Linked DNA regions of Homo sapiens: region 1 is linked to region 2. A link means that fine-mapping ties the variant in region 2 to the expression of a gene that starts in the linked region. Tissue or cell type: whole blood. Region 2 holds a variant in brackets; the other region holds the start of a gene. All regions are shown on one strand. Distances are between the middles of the regions.

Region 1 (8,000 bases), 230 kb before region 2:
AAATACAAACTAAAAGTATTCCAGACTGATGACACATCAAGTCAGTGGTTACCCTCAGGAAAAGAAAAAGAAAAATTCTGTAGTTGGAAGTTTTCTATTAGTTTGTGATTGTTTTCAAAAACAATTTTCTTAAAATGTACTTACATTCCCAGCACCTAGAACAGATCTGGCATTCCAAGTGCTCAATAAATATTTGTTGAATTAATAACTGAAAGATATAAACAGTTAGAACAAACACATGCTTAGAAAAAACACATCCAAATATTAACAGTGGTTTTTTTGGAGGGATAGATTTATCACAGGTAATTTGGGTATTTTTTCACTTTGTGCTTTTCTGCTTCTCAAGTTTTCTTAGATTATTATGCATTATTAACTGTTATATTGGTCAGGCTGCTAACCAGCTAAGACTAGTATTTTAGAGGCAAAATCTTGTCCCCAGATTTATGGGTTTCAACATTTTGTGTATTAAGTTATTGGGACCAGATCCTTGGAAACTGCTTGTCTACCCAAGTACACAGAATACGAATATGATCAGTTAATTATTGAGACATGTAACTTCCTGATGTCTAGAATATTCTTGCCCATTACCCACGGCTCCCTCTTTTCCAAAATCATGATAATGGAGTCAGTCATCAGCAGTTTGGTGAATACGTAATCATACAAAGAGGTGTAGAGAATTTTGTTGGGTATTTCATTAGGTTAGCAAAGGAACTAGAGGCTAGGGCGCGATGGTTCACGCCTGTAATTCCAGCACTTTGGGAGGCCAAGGCGGGTGGATCACCTGAGGTCAGGAGTTCAAGACCAGCCTGACTAACATGGTGAAACTCTGGCTGTACTAAAAATACAAAAATTAGCTGGGCGTGGTGGCGGGAGCCTGTAATCCCAGCTATTCGGGAGGCTGAGGCAGGAGAATTACTTGAACCCAGCAAGCAGAGGTTGCAGTGAGCCGAGACGGCGCCATTGCACTCCAGCCTGGGCAACAGAGCAAGACTCCATCTCAAAAAAAAAAAAAAGGAAATGAACTAGGGAATTGTTCTATATCAAGATTTTCAGTGACCAGCCAGATGCAGTGGCTCACGCTTGTAATCCCAGCACTTTGGGAGGCTGAGGCGGGCGGATCACCTGAGTTTGGGAGTTCGAGACCAGCCTGACCAACATGGAGAAACCCCATCTCTACTAAAAACACAAAATTAGCCGGGCGTGGTGGCACATGCCTGTAGTCCCAGCTACTCGGGAGGCTGAGGCAGGAGAATCACTTGAACTCAGGAGGCGAAGGTTGCAGTGAGCCAAGATCATGCCATTGCACTCCAGCTTGGGCAACAAGAGCAAAACTCCATCTCAAAAAAAAAAAAGATTAAGATTTTCAGTGACCAAGACACTCACTTGGATACTACTGAAAAAACACTGAGAAATTCTGATGAAAATGATCCTTTTTCTAGGCCCTGGATGGACTGTTACCCCACAATGGGCATGTTAATTTAATTACATTTCTCTTGCATTGATTTTATTTTGGATTAGTCTCCATGATGTGATTTGACAGGCATCCTAGTTCCTGTGGCAACTTACGTACAAGTCACCTCTTAAAATAGCCAACTCCTGCTGGGTGCAGTGGTTCACGCCTGTAATTCCAATACTTCAGGAGGCTGAGGCAGGAGGATCACTTGAGCCCAGGAGTTTGAGACCAGGCTGGGCAATATAGTAAGACCCTATCTCTATAAGAAAAAAAAGTGTTTTTTTATTTTTTTTTTTTTTATTTTTGAGATGGAGTCTTGCTCTGTTGCCCAGGCTGAAGTGCAGTGGCACGATCTCTGCTCACTGAAAGCTCCGCCTCCTGGGTTCACGCCATTCTCCTGCCTCAGCCTCCCGAGTAGCTGGGACTACAGGCGCCCGCCACCACGCCTGGCTAATTTTTTGTATTTTTAGTAGAGATGGGGTTTCACCATGTTAGCCAGGATGGTCTCGATCTCCTGACCTCATGATCCACCCACCTCTCCCTCCCAAAGTGCTGGGATTACAGGCATGACCCACCACGCCCAGCCTGTTTTTTCTTTTTTTAAAAGGACAACTTCTGCAGTTGATTTAAACAAATGTTGATTTGTTTAAATTAACATTTAAATTTTATATTTTGGGGGATGGGAGGATGTGGGGATGGCTAATGGGTACAAAAACATAGTTTGAAAGAATGAATAAGATCTAGTATTTGAAGGCCGGGTGCAGTGGTTCACGCCTGTAATCCCAGCACTTTGGGAGGCCAAGGCGGGCAGATCACCTGAGGTCAGGATTTCAAGACCAGCCTGGCCAACATGGCAAAAGCCCATCTCTACTAAAAATACAAAAAATTAGCCAGGCATGGTGGAGGGCGCCTGTAATCTCAGCTACTTGGGAGGCTGAGGCAGGAGAATAGCTTGAACCTGGGAGGCAGAGGTTGCAGTGAGCCGAGATCACGCCACTGTACTCCAGCCTGGCAACAGAGTGAGACTCCATCTCAAAACAGACAAAAAATATATATATATTGTTTTAGTCTTTGCCATGTGCCAGATATTTTCCAACCTCTTTCTATAGATTCATTCCTTTTCATTACAACATTTGCCTTGGCTTCAAATTCTGGAGATGAAATGAAAAAATAATTTTTACTTTTGAAGGTAATATACACCATCTAGATACCATGCTACCTTTATAATCGCGGGTGCTTAACCAATGGGCGCTGTGCACCAAGTCCTGGGTGAGGTACTCCATCATCAGCGCTTACTCCTTACAACCTTTCTCAGTAGATGTCTTATCCTCATTCTAATCTGTGAAGAAACTGAGGTTGGAATGCCTCATGACTTGCCCAAGGCCCAGCAAGCTTCATTTGTTCACTGATTTGCAAACATTCTTTAATCTTTCATCTGTGTGTGTTGCAGGTCCCCGAGGTATATCTCATGCCCACGTCACTGTCCCCTCTGTGGACATTCAACAGAGCCTGCTGGCCGGCTGCCAGCCACTCATTGACTCAGCAAGCCCAAGCCAACTCCTCCTGCCACCTTCCTCAAGTGTCCCCTGGCTCTTCAGTGGAAAATCCAGCTTGACTCCTCCCCGAGAGTTAAGTCTGGCCGATTCTCCCTCTGAATTCTGCCTCCCATCTGTACCCCCCTTCCATCCTGGCTACCCCCACCCTGGTTTGGCCCTCACTACCTTTCACAAGGACTGTTGCTGCAATAAGTTCCTTAGGGGTCTCCCAGCTGACTTCCACAATCTTTTCTCCCCAACCCCCTACACGGTGATTTCCCAGAAGCACAGCTCTAGTCCTGTCACTTCCCAACTCTAGAACCCTCAGAGCCTCCCATTGTCTACTTTTTTTTTTCTTGAGACAGGGTCTCACTCTGTCACCCAGGCTGGAGTGCAATGGCGCTATCTCGGCTCACTGCAACCCCCGCCTCCCGGGTTCAAGCAATTCTCCTGCCTCAGCCTCCTGAGTAGCTGGGATTACAGGCGCCCGCCACCACGCCCGGCTAATTTTTTGTATTTTTAGTAGAGTTGGGGGTTTCGCCATGTTGGCCAGGCTGGTCTGGAACTCCTAGCCTCAAGTGATCCACCCGCCTCAACCTCCCAATGTGCTGGGATTTCAGGCGTGAGCCACTGCACCCGGCCTGACTACTCTTTCCCTGGCAATTGCTGCGTCACCAAGCCCCAACCCACCCTGCTGAGTTTTCCTTCCAAGACTCCCCTCCCATCCAGCCGGCTTGAACCGGCCTCCAGTCACGTTGTTTGTTCAGCTAGAATTTTTCTCTGCCTTCTCTTCAAGGCCGCTCAAGCTTCATGAAGCGGTTCTTTATTCTGACTATGCCCACTTCTCTCATTTCCCTCATCACCCGGCCCCGCTCCACATACTGCATTTATCTATAAACTCCTGAGAGCCAGGAGTTTAGCCTGAAATCCTAGCTTCCTGGTTAAGAGCTGAAATGCCTTCGCACGGCGTGCAATGGGTGAACCCCACCGCCTGCTTTCTAACGGGTCCAAGCCGCGGGCAGGGGCCTGTGTTACGGAGCCGCATGACACACCAGGCCTACTGCTGGACCCCAACAAGCCTAGCCTCTGTGAATCCAGCTGTCCTCACAAACTGTCTCTTCGGGACACAAGCCCATCAGAGGCTTCCGTTTTCCTTTCATAAGATCTCATAACCGTCAGCTGATACCTGGGACAGGCACAGCACACATAGGTCATTCTAGAAATATTGGTGGTCTGAACAAACTCTAAGCTGGAGAGGACATGAGAATGATAGATCCGATTCCTTCTCTCAACAGAAGAAATCAAGGCACAGAGAAGGGAAGAGACTCGCCCTAGGTCCCACAGCAAGCAGCAGTACTGGAGCCAACACGGAGGCCCCCCGGTTTCACGGTCAGGGCTCGCTACGCTACACCCTGAACGCAGACCCAGGGCAGCGGCCTCGGCCGCCTGAGGCCACTGCCGAAGACTTCGCCGCCAGTCGTAACATCACGTTACTTCTGTCCCTCGCCTCACAGACTCCTTCGCTCTTTCCACTACAGCGAGAGGACTTCTCCAGGGCCGCATCACCCTGCGGAGGGAGGAAGACACGGTCTCTCACGAAAGGGTCTCCAGACAGTTCCGCTGCTCCGGGAGCAGCCCCCGGCCCCGCCCCCGCGTGCGCCTGGCCCCACCCCCAAGCGCTCCATGACCAGCCTCCACGTGCATCCGCCCCAGACAGGCCAGGCCTGGGAGGAGCCGAAGCCCCACTCCCCGCCTTCTTCATGAGATCGTCCCTATTGACGTCGACAGACAGAAGCCGCGTCCAGTGAGAAGGAAAGAACGGCCGCTATAGCCCTATCGGCTGCTACAACACCAAAACGCATCCACCTAACTGGCTGACGCTACACCTTGGTCTTTCCGGGTCCTTGCACGCTTCGCTCCAACTCCTGCAGAGCTGAGCCGGAGGGGAATCCGGAAGGGACACGCTGAACAGGTAAGACTGTGCTGCCTGGGGTGCCTACTGGCATCGATTCGAGGGCTGCCGCGCTCCCGCTGCAGAGCTCGGGGTGGGAGACAGGCGCGGCGAGGAAGGCCAGGGAAAGGGGCGGGGAGGGGCGGGGAGGAGTGAGCACGTGGAACGCCGGCGCCACCGGGCCTAGGTGGCAGCTGGGCCGGCGCGCTCCGCCCGTTCTGGGGCGCGTGGGGCCCTCCGGCCGGATCAGTGCTGCAACCGTAAACACGCAGGGAGGGCACCCCGAGTGTCGCCGCTGAGGGCGTTTCTCTAAGCGCTTCTCTGAGACCTGCTGCTGAAGGCCCCACCCGACACCTGGCGGGGGCTGGGCTGCGGGCCTTGGGGCGGTGTCCCCTGTGAATGTTCAGGTCAGCATAACAGGTTAGGTGTGGTTGAAGCTTACGAAGTGGCCGGCTCTGTGCTGCCGGCTTCACAGGCGCTAACATTTGCCAGCGCTATGATGTCCTTGTCAGACGCAGAAAGGGGTGCAGTTTGGTTGTCCGTCGGGGTAGCGCACAACTAGCAAGTGATGGGGCCTGGGTTTGGCCCTCGCCTCCACTCTGAGTTGTGAGTTAGCGAGAAAGCCACGCCTCGTGGGCTCCCCGGGGGCTTCAGAAACCATGACGCCTTTCACCATGGTGTTCTACAGGCATTGTCTTGTGACTCCAGCAGCGCAGCCAGAAGCAAAGAAAACTGAGGGGACGGCTTCCTAGAGGAAACAATTCCAAAGTCCCAAACTCTGATTTTAAATAACGATGGAAATTAGAGTCGCGGTGGTGTTCTTTTTTTTTTTTTTTTTTTTTTTTTTTTGAGGCGGAGTCTCGCTGTCGCCCAGGCTGGAGTGCAGTGGCACGATCTCGACTCACTGCAGCCTCCGCCCCCGGGGTTCACGCCATTCTCCTGCCTCAGCTTCCCGCGTAGCTGGGGCTACAGGCGACCACCACCTCGCCCGGCTAATTTTTTGTATTTTTAGTAGAGACGGGGTTTCACCGTGTTAGCCAGGATGGTCTCGATCTCCTGACCTCGTGATCCGCCCGCCTCGGCCTCCCAAAGTGCTGGGATTACAGGCGTGAGCCACCGCGCCCGGCCTGAGGTGGTGTTCTGTGGGTAACCAGGCCTGGGGGTCCTACCAACAGAGGTGGAATCCCTGTTCCACCATTTAACTTACGCTGGGTGTGGTACCTAGTCCTGTAAGCCTGTTTCCTCATTTGTAAAATAGGATTGAAAATACCAACTCAGGGTGGGCGTTAGTACAAAGCTTGCGCCTGAAGTATTTCTTAAATAAGTGTTAAGAGAAAATTTTGTTGTTTTTTAAGTCAGCTGTCTAAAATGTTGTTTTACAGTGAACAACTCCTAACTGCTGGGATTATAGGCATGCACCACCACACCCGGCTAATTTTTAAATTATTTGTTAAGATGGGGCGGAGGGGTGTCTCACTATGTTGCCCAGGCTGGTCTTGAACTCCTGGGCTCAAGCTATCCTCCCACCTCAGCCTCCCAAAGTGCTGGGATTAGAGGCGTGAGCCACCGCCCTGGCCTGTAGAAGCTACTTTGTATTCAGCTTTACAGACCAGTGGCGTTAGCGTTTTGCACATTACAGCCCGCTAGTCTACAGAATCCCCCCACTTTTTTTTTTTTTTTTTTTTTTTGATACGGAATTTCACTATTGTTGCCCAGGCTGGAGCACAGTGGCGCGATCTCGGCTCACCGCAACCTCCGCCTCCCAGGTTTAAGGGATTCTCCTGCTTCAGCCTCCCGAGTAGCTGAGACTACGGGCGCACGCCACCGCGCCCGGCTAACTTTTTGTATTTTAGTAGAGACAGGTTTTCACCATGTTGGCCAGGATGGTCTCACATATCTGCCGACCTCGTGATCCGCCCGCCTCGGCCTCCCAAAGTGCTGGGATTACAGGCATGAGCCACCGCGCCCGGCCAGTCTACAGACTCTTACAAAATTCCCCTGTTGTTGGATATCTAGGATGTTTCTCACTTTAACTATTACAGCATGGTGTAGTAAACATCCTTTATATATATATATATATATATATATATATATAGTTCACATACCCTAAAATTAACTTTTTTAAAAGGGTTCAATCCAGTGGGTTTTTTTATTATTATATTGGCAAGATTGTGCAACCATCACCACTGTCTAATTCTGGAACATTCTCATCCACCCAAGAAGCAACCCCGCGGCCCCAGGGTGCCCCAGTCTCAGAGCCCCGGTTGTTGGGCTCCAGTCCAGGCCCCCTAACCATGTGCTAAACAAGATGGTGAGGCTCAGCCTGGAAACCAGAACAGCCCCGAGGCCCCCAAACTGGAGAGCCCCAAGGGGAGATGGAGCCCCTCCCCCATTCTGAGTTTTGGCCCCGTGCTAAGGCTGGACCGACCCCCTGTGCTGTCAAGCCTACCTCCCAGGGGAGGCGAGGCCAGCCCCGATGTGTGCGGGCTGCCATCCCCCACACTTGGCTCCGGGGCTGGTCGGTGTTGGGCGTCCCAGCACTGCGGGCGGCACGGACGCCCGGGGCTGCTCCCTACTGGGTGTAGCGCACCCCGCCCCCCACCCCGCCCGGCCTCCTCTGGGCCTGCGCCTTGGGCCTATTGAGGCCAGGCCTGGAATGGTGCCCTGGAAGCAGGAAAGAGCCTGTAATTCCGGAAGCTGCGGGCTCCCAAACCAGACACCATTTTGGAGACCGGTGCAAAAATGTGTGCCGCTTTTGTGTGGAAAACTGCTAGACTGTGAGAGAGAGCCGACCTCCTCATGCATGAACCTTTATAGAGGGTGGTCCACATATTCTGTGCACTACATACACATACGCTGGGCACATACTGGCTCTCTGTGTTAAATCTCAGATTTGCTGCCGCGCGTGGTGGCTCACGCCTGTCATCCCAACGCTGCGCCAAGGCAGGAGGATCGCTGGAGGCCAGAAATTCGAGACCAGCCTGGGCGGCAACAAAGCGAGACCCCGTCTCTACAAAAATATTTTTTATTTTTATTTTATTTTTCCGTCAAGCTGTTCTTT
Region 2 (8,000 bases):
ATAGCTTCAGTTATGTTTCTTAGTCTCCATTTGAAAAAAGAAATATTCGCTGGGCATGGTGGCTCACGCCTGTAATCCCAGCACTTTGGGAGGCCAAGGTGGGTGGATTACTTGAGGCCAGGAGTTCCAGACCAGCCTGGCCATCACGGTGAAACCCTGTCTCTATTAAAAATACAAAAATTAGCCAGGTGTGGTGGTGCGCCCTTGTAATCCCAGCTACCTGGGAGGCTGAAGCAAGAGGATTGGTTTCAAGGTTCACCTGGGAGGTCAAAGCTGCATTCAGCCAAGATCACACCATTGTACTCCAGCCTAGGTGACAAAGTGATACCCTGTCTCAAATAAATACATAGACAAAAAGCAAACCTATGAGCTATTTAAAGGACCTTGAGGAGAAAAAAAATAAATGAAATGGGTGATCTAAATTTAAATAGAATCTGCAGCTCTGGTTAGCCTTTGACAGTGTTGTTGTATCATTATAGTTATGAATTTGTTTTCTCAGTTGTGTTAAAGTGGAGTAAGGCAAAAAAGAACTTGAAATCTCAACGACCTCCAGAGAAACATGCTAGCTTTTGCATGAGTAAAATCTCTTAGGCACAAATATTAATAATATGTTAAGAAACTTTAGGCTTAAGCCTAACATAACAGCCCCATAAGTGTTCAGTATTATCTCTAACCAGTTATGTCAACTGTTTGTGGAAATGACAGCCTTTCTTGGCATTAGAGGAATGGTTAAACCTCTGACTCCAGGGAATCACAAAGCTTGGTCAGATGCTGAATGGAATTATGTGTGTTGTTGGAAGCATGTTCCCTATGATTAATAAATGTTTTCAAGTTTTCCACTTAACTTGCCAGTTCTTTGGTTAAGCCACTCTTCTAGTCCTGTCCTACAGAGCAGGCTTAGAGCCCCACATTTGTCATTGTAGAAATTCAAACAATATCCATTAAGTCATTTTTTTTTTTTTTGCCCATTAAGTCTTAAAGGATTAATACATTTTCTTTCCTTTTTTTTTTTTTTTTGAAACGGAGCCTCCCTCTGTCGCCCAGGCTGGAGTTCAGTTGTGCGATCTCGGCTCACTGCAGCCTCTGCCTCCCAGGTTCAAGCGATTCTCCTGCCTTAGTCTCCCGAGTAGTTGGGATTAACAGGGTTGTGCCACCACACCTGGCTAATTTTAGTATTTTAGATAGAGATGGGGTTTCACCATGTTGGTCAGGCTGGTCTCGAACTCCTGACCTCAAGTGATCTGACCACCTAGGCCTCTCAAAGTGTTGGGATTACAGGCATGAACCACCGTGCCTGCCAATACATTTTCTTACAAATATTAATTATTGAAAAAATGTATTTTAAGTAAATATTCAGACTATAAATATATCAGCATAATTGAATACATTATAACCACGTAGGCATGTTAACTGCTTACATGCGTGCATGAAATATTAAGGGAAAAGGGCAGAATATAATATTTGTAAACACAACTATGTATACCTGTGTGTATATATTGAAAAACGTTAGCATTTGGGGTGTCGTAAAAATAAGTTTCTGTTTTCTTTATAAAATTACCTAAATTCATATTCAACTACACACAATTATAAACTTAATTGCAGAGCTAGGTGTGGTGGCTCATGTCTGTATTCCTAGTACTTTGGGAGGCTGAGGCAGGAGGATCCCTTGAGGCCAGGAGTTTGAGACTAGCTTGGGTAACATAGCACGATCTTGTCTCTACAAAAAAAAAAGTGAAAATTAGTGGGGTGTGGTAGTGTGCTTCTATGGTCCCAGCTACTTGGGAAGCTGAGGCAGGAGGATTGCTTGAGACTAGGAGGTCGAGGCTGCAGTGAGCTGTAATCATGCCACTGCACTTCAACCTGGGCAGCAAAGTGAGACCCTGCCTCAAAAAAAGAAAAAAATGTGTGGCAAAAACTGCCATGAACAAAGTCCAAAACAAACTAGGACAAAGGCTTGAAATATATGACAGATATATCCCAATATACATAGAATTCTTATGAAATTAAAAGGAACATGAACAACTTAACTCAGTAGCAAAGGTTACAAGCAATATTTATGGAGTAAGAAATAGAAATGGCAATAAATATATGAAAAGCCTAGTTGATCAGCCTTACTAATAGGGATAAAAATTAAAACTTCACTTCTTACCTATCAGTGAGTTAAAATTGATACACTGCTGCTGAGGTTGTAGGGAAATAGGCTTTCTTGTATGCTGTGTTCTTTGGAGTTAAGTTAGTATTTATTTGGAGGCAAGCTCTTAATTGAATCTACAGATACACATGCCTTTTGGAAATAATTTAGCAATTAAATCTAACCTAATCTGATCTCACCTAGCATTTCACTTCTGAAAGTTTATCCTATAAAAATATTACCATAGAAGTGCCAAGAATTTTTATTGAAGTTTTATTTATAACAGTGAGAATGTGGCAGTAATCTCAATCTTTATCATTAATTGCTTATGGTTTACCCAGTTAGTAGTGTAAAGGTACTAGTTAACAGTAGGGTCTCTTGACTAAACAGTTGGACTTTGAATCTCCATTCTAGAACTTCTTAGCATTATGATCTTTGGCAAATTAACTGGCCTCGCTAAACTTCAGTTTCTTTATCTGTTAAATGAAGTTTATAGCAATTAACTTAGAGTTTTATTTAAATTAAATGAGATAAACTGAATGATTAGTACACTACCTAGCACATACTTGTTCAATAAATATTAACATTTCTTATCAAAATTGCCATATTTAAGAATGAGGTATATTTATATGTCTAGCATAGAATCAAATATATATTATCATTATTATTTTTTTTTTGAGACAGGGTCTCCTTCTATCACCCAGGCTGGAGTATAGTGGTGTGATCATAGCTCAGTGCAGCCTGTAAGTCCTGGGCTCAAGTGATTCTCCCATCTCAGCCTTGTGAATAGCTGGGAGTACAGGTGTGTGCCACCATGCCTGGCTAATTTTTTTTGCTGTTAGTTTCACTTTTTTTGTAGAGCTGGGGTCTCGTTATGTTGCCCAGGCCGGTCTTGAACTCCTGGGCTCAAGCGATTCTCCCGTCTCGGCCTCCTGAAGCATACAGATTTTTTAGGGCAGTGAATCTATTCTGTATGATACTGTAATCATGGAAACCTGTCATTATCTGTTTATACAAACCCATAGACTGTATAACACCAAAAAGTGAACCCTAAGGTAAACTGTGGACTGTCAATGTAGGTTCATCTGTTGTAACGGTTTACCACAGTGGTGCAGGATGTTGATAGAGGCTGTTGGAGGGGTTATGTGGGAACTCTGTGTACTTTCTGCTCAGTTTTGCTGTGGATCTAAGTTTGCATTTAAAAATATTTTATGGCTTGGTGGCTCATACTTGTAATCCTAGCACTTTGGAAGGCTGAGGCGGGTGGATCACTTGAGTTCAGGAGTTTGAGACCAGCCTGGGCAACATGGTGAAACCCCATCTCTATGAAATAAAAAAAAAAGTAAATAATACTAATAGTAATTAACTGGGTGTGGTGGCATGTGCCTATAGTCCCAGGTACTTGGGAGGCTGAGGTCGGAGGATGACTTGAGCCTGTGAAGTGGAAGTTGCAGTGAGCAGTGATCATGCCACTGCACTCCAGCCTGGGCAACACAGCCAGACTCGGTCTCAAAAAATAATAATAATAAAATAAATAATATAAATAAAAATAATATTTTGAAAGAAAAGAGCTATCAAGCCACAAATGCAAAAGGCTTCAAGTTCCTATCTTTTAGAAATACATACTAAAATATTTATGAAGGAAATGATATATCTAAGATTTGCCTCAAAATAATACTGGAGTGGCAAAGTGAGCGGGGGAGTAGATGAAACAAGATTAGCATGAGTTCATAATTATTGAAGTTGAATAAATTGCACATGGGCTTCATTGTACATTTCTGACAGTATTTGTTTGAACTTTTTCCATAATAAAAAGTTTTGTTTGTTTTTTTTTTTGAGATGGAGTCTTGCTCTGTCACCCAGGCTGGAGTGCAGTGGCATGATCTCGGCTCACTGCAAGCTCCGCCTCCCAGGTTCACGCCATTCTCCTGCCTCAGCCTCCAGAGTAGCTGCGACTACAGGCGTCCGCCACCATGCCCAGCTAATTTTTTGTAATTTTAGTAGAGATGGGGTTTCACTGTGTTAGCCAGGATGATCTCGATCTCCTGACCTTGTGATCCGCCCGCCTGGGACTCCCAAAGTGCTGGGATTACAGGCATGAGCCACCACGCCTGGCCTTTTTTTTAAAATGGTCTTACAGGTAATACCATGCATGCTTAAGTCATCATTCTCATATTTAGCTACCAAGATTTTTCCTTTCGGAAATCCCTCAGTATTCTAGTACCACTTTCCTCTCATTTGACACTTTTCAAAGCACCTACACACTCCCTTGAGAAAGATA[C/T]CTTTTTTTTTTTTTGCGAGGGAGTTTCACTCTTTTGTTGCCCAGGCTGGAGTGCAGTGGCATGATCTTGGCTCACTGCAACGTCTGCCTCCTGGGTTCAAGCGATTCTCCTGCCTCAGCCTCCTGAGTAGCTGGGATTACAGGCACGCACCACCACACCCAGCTAATTTTTTTGTATACTTTTTTTTTTTTAAGTACAGATGGGGTTTCACCGTGTTGGCCAGGCTGGGCTCAAACTTCTGACTTCAGATGATCCGCCTGCCTCGATCTCCCAAAGTGCTGGGATTACAGGCGTGAGTCACCACGCCCAGCCCAAGAAAGATACATTTTTAAAAACAGCTTTATTGTGGTATAATTGACGTAAAATGTACATACTTAAAGTATACAGTGTGATGTTTTGATATATATGTATACTCTTGAAACCACCACCACAGTTAAAATAATGAAAATGTCCATTACCTCCAGAAGTTTCTTCATGTTTTGTTGTAATCTCTCCTTCTCCTCCCTGATTCCTCCCCATCCCCAGGCAACCATGTTTTGTCACCGCGCGCAGCCATTTACTATTATGATACTATTTTATATAAATAGTATCATACAGGCCGGGCACGGTGGCTCATGCCTGTAATCCCAGCACTTTGGGAGGTCGAGGTGGGCGATGACTTGAGGCCACCTGGCCAACATGAAACCCCTTCTCTATTAAAAATGCAAAAATTAGCCAGGGGTGGTGGCGTGCACCTGTAATCTCAGCTCCTCAGGAGGCTGAGACATGAGGATTGCTTGAACCCAGGAGGCAGAGGTTGCAGTGAGCTGAGATTGTGCCACTGCACTCCAGCCTGGGCAACAGAGTGAGTCTCTGTCTAAAAAAAAAACAAAACATACAGACTCTTGTCTGGCTTCTTTCTTTCAGCATAATTATTTTGAAATTCGTCCATGTTATGTGGTTCCTTTTTATTGCTGAGTTGTATACCACAGTTTTTGATCTATTTACTTGTTGGTAGATATTTGGATTTTCAGTTCTGAAGCATTACAGATAGTGGCTGTTACGGATATTCATGTACAGATCTTTCTTTGTATGGGCATATGCTTTAATTTATCTTGGGCAAATACCTAGGAGTAGAATATGATCCAATATGGTAGGTGTATATTTAACTTTTTTTTCTATCTATCTATCTATCTATCTATCTATCTATCTATCTATCTATCTATCTATTTTTAAGACGGAGTTTTGCTCCATCTGGAGCAAAGGCTGGAGTGCAGTGGCATGATCTTGGCTCACTGCAACCTCTGCCTCCTGGGTTCAAGTGATTCTCCTGTCCCAGCCTCCCCAGTAGCTGGGATTACAGGCGCCTGCCACCACACCCAGCTAATTTTTGTATTTGTAGTAGAGGCTAGGTTTCTTCATGTTGGCCAGGCTGGTCTTGAACTACTGATCTCAAGTGATCTGCCTCGGCCCCCCAAAGTGTTGGGATTACAGGCGTGAGCCATCACACCTGGCCAGTTTTTATTTATATTTTTTATAGAAGATGGAGTCTTCCTATGTTTCACAGGCTGATCTTGAACTCCAGGCCTCAAGTGATCCTCCCGCCTTGGCTTCCCAAAGTGCTGGGATTATAGGCATGAGCCTCTATGCCCAGCCTTATATTTAACTTTTTAAGGTACTACCAAAGAACTTTCCAAACTGGTTGTATAATTTTACATTTCTACCAGCAGTATGAGTTCCAGTTCCTCCACATCCTGTCAGTACTTGATACTGTCAGTCTTTTAAATTTTTTAGCTCTTATAAAAAGGTATATAGTTACATCTCATTTTGGTTTTAATTTACATTTCTCTATTGAGTAATGATGTTGAGTTTCTTTTCATGTGCTTGTCATCCTGATATCTTTGGTGACTTGTCTGTTCAAATCTCTTGCCCATTTAAAAATTGCTTTCTTAATGGATTTTAAGAATTATTTACATAGTCTGGATACAAGTCCTCTGTAATATATATAATTTGCAAGTGTTTTCTCCCAGACTGTGGCTTTTCTTTTTATTAACAGTGCTTTTTGAAGGGCAGATTTTTTTTTTTTTTTTTAAAGAGACAGAGTCTTGCCCTGTCACCCAGGCTGGAGTATAGTGGTGTGATTATAGCTCACTGCAGCCTCAAACTCCTGAGCTCAAAGAATTCTTCTGCCTCATTCTTCCAAACAGCTAGGACTACAGATGTGTGCCACTGCACCCAGCTAATTCCGTTTGTATTTCATTGATTGTGTTTTTGGTGTCACATCTTAAGAAACTTTGGCCTACTTCAAGTTCTCAGGAGTTTTTTCCTGCATTTTCTTCTGGAAGCTTTATAGTTTCATGTTTTACATTAGGTCTGTGATCCTTTTGAAGTTGATTGTTATACGTGGTCCAAGGTATGGATCAAAGTTCATTTTTCTGCATATGGATATTCAATTGTTTCAGCACTGTTTTTTAAAAAAGACTATTTTCTCCACTGAAGTGCCTTTGTACCTTTGCAAAAATCAGTTGTCCATATATGTGTCAATCTGTTCCATCAGTCATGGGTCAAAGGCTGTTCTCATGGGGAGGCTTTTGAATTTGAAAAACTGAAACTCTATACTCATTGGACAACTTTATACCCATTGAACAACTCCCCATTTTCCATTTCTCTCAGCCCGTGGCAATATGCTTTCTGTTTCTATAACATGGACTACTTGAGTTTTTTTCTTTTTTTTGATGACAAGATCTCACTCCGTTGCCCAGGCTAGAGTGCAGTGGCATGATCTTGGCTCATGGCAGCCTTCACCTCCTGGGCTCAAGCTGTCTTCCCACCTCAGCCTCCTGAGTAACTGGAACTACAGGTGCACTCTATCATGCCTCGCTAATTTTTTAATTTTTTTGTAGAGACGAGTTCTCGCCATATTGGCCAGGCTGATCTCAAACTCCTGGGCTCAAGTAATCCTCCCACTTTGGCCTCCCAAAATACAGAGATTATGGGTGTGAGCCATCATGCCCAGCTGGCTAGATATTTCATGTAAGTGGAATCATACATTATTTCTCTTTTAGTGACTTGCTTATTTTGCTTAGCATAATGTCCTCAAGGTTCATCTATATTGTAGCATGTGACAAGATTTCCTTTTTAAGGGCTGAATAATATTCTGTGTTATGTATATACCACATATCTGTGAGTAGACATTTGGGTTACTTCCACTTCGTGGCTATACTGAATAATGCTATGGTGAAAGTGGCTATGCACATATCTGTTTGAGGTCTTGTTTGTAATTCAGTTCGTTTTTATATATACTCATTGGTATTTATATAAATGGGATTGCTGGGTCATATGGTAGTTTAATTTTTTGAGGAACCTCCATATTGTTTTCCATGGTGGCTGCACCATTTTACATTCCCACCAACAATGCATAGTGGTTCCAATTTCTTCACAACTTTACCACCGCTTGTTACTTTCTGTTTTTTGGTAGTGGCCATCCTAACGGGTGTAGTTTTTTTTTGCATTTTTCTAATGATTAGTGATGTTGAGCATCTTTTCTTTTTTCCCCCCATATTACACAGATGTAGAGCATCTTTTCATGTGCTTGTTGGCTATTTGTA

What was found. PIP is the estimated chance that this variant, and not a neighbour inherited with it, causes the effect.
Region 1: it holds the start of DCAF4, and the variant in region 2 is fine-mapped to the expression of DCAF4 in whole blood (INTERVAL, PIP above 0.99).

What each region holds. Positions count from the first base shown.
Region 1 is chr14:72,921,584-72,929,583 of GRCh38, forward strand. It overlaps DCAF4 (DDB1 and CUL4 associated factor 4), which reads left to right and starts at 4,881. Exons shown (of 14, transcript NM_015604.4): 1 at 4,881-4,960. It also overlaps the pseudogene RPL36P3. RefSeq lists enhancers at 2,993-3,859, 4,260-4,359, 4,650-4,919, 5,591-6,455 and a silencer at 5,090-5,149.
Region 2 is chr14:73,152,714-73,160,713 of GRCh38, forward strand. All of the region lies in intron 3 of PSEN1 (presenilin 1), which reads left to right. Among named protein-coding and RNA genes, the nearest start is that of PSEN1, 20 kb to the left of the region's middle. The variant C/T (reference allele first, on the strand shown) is at 4,413.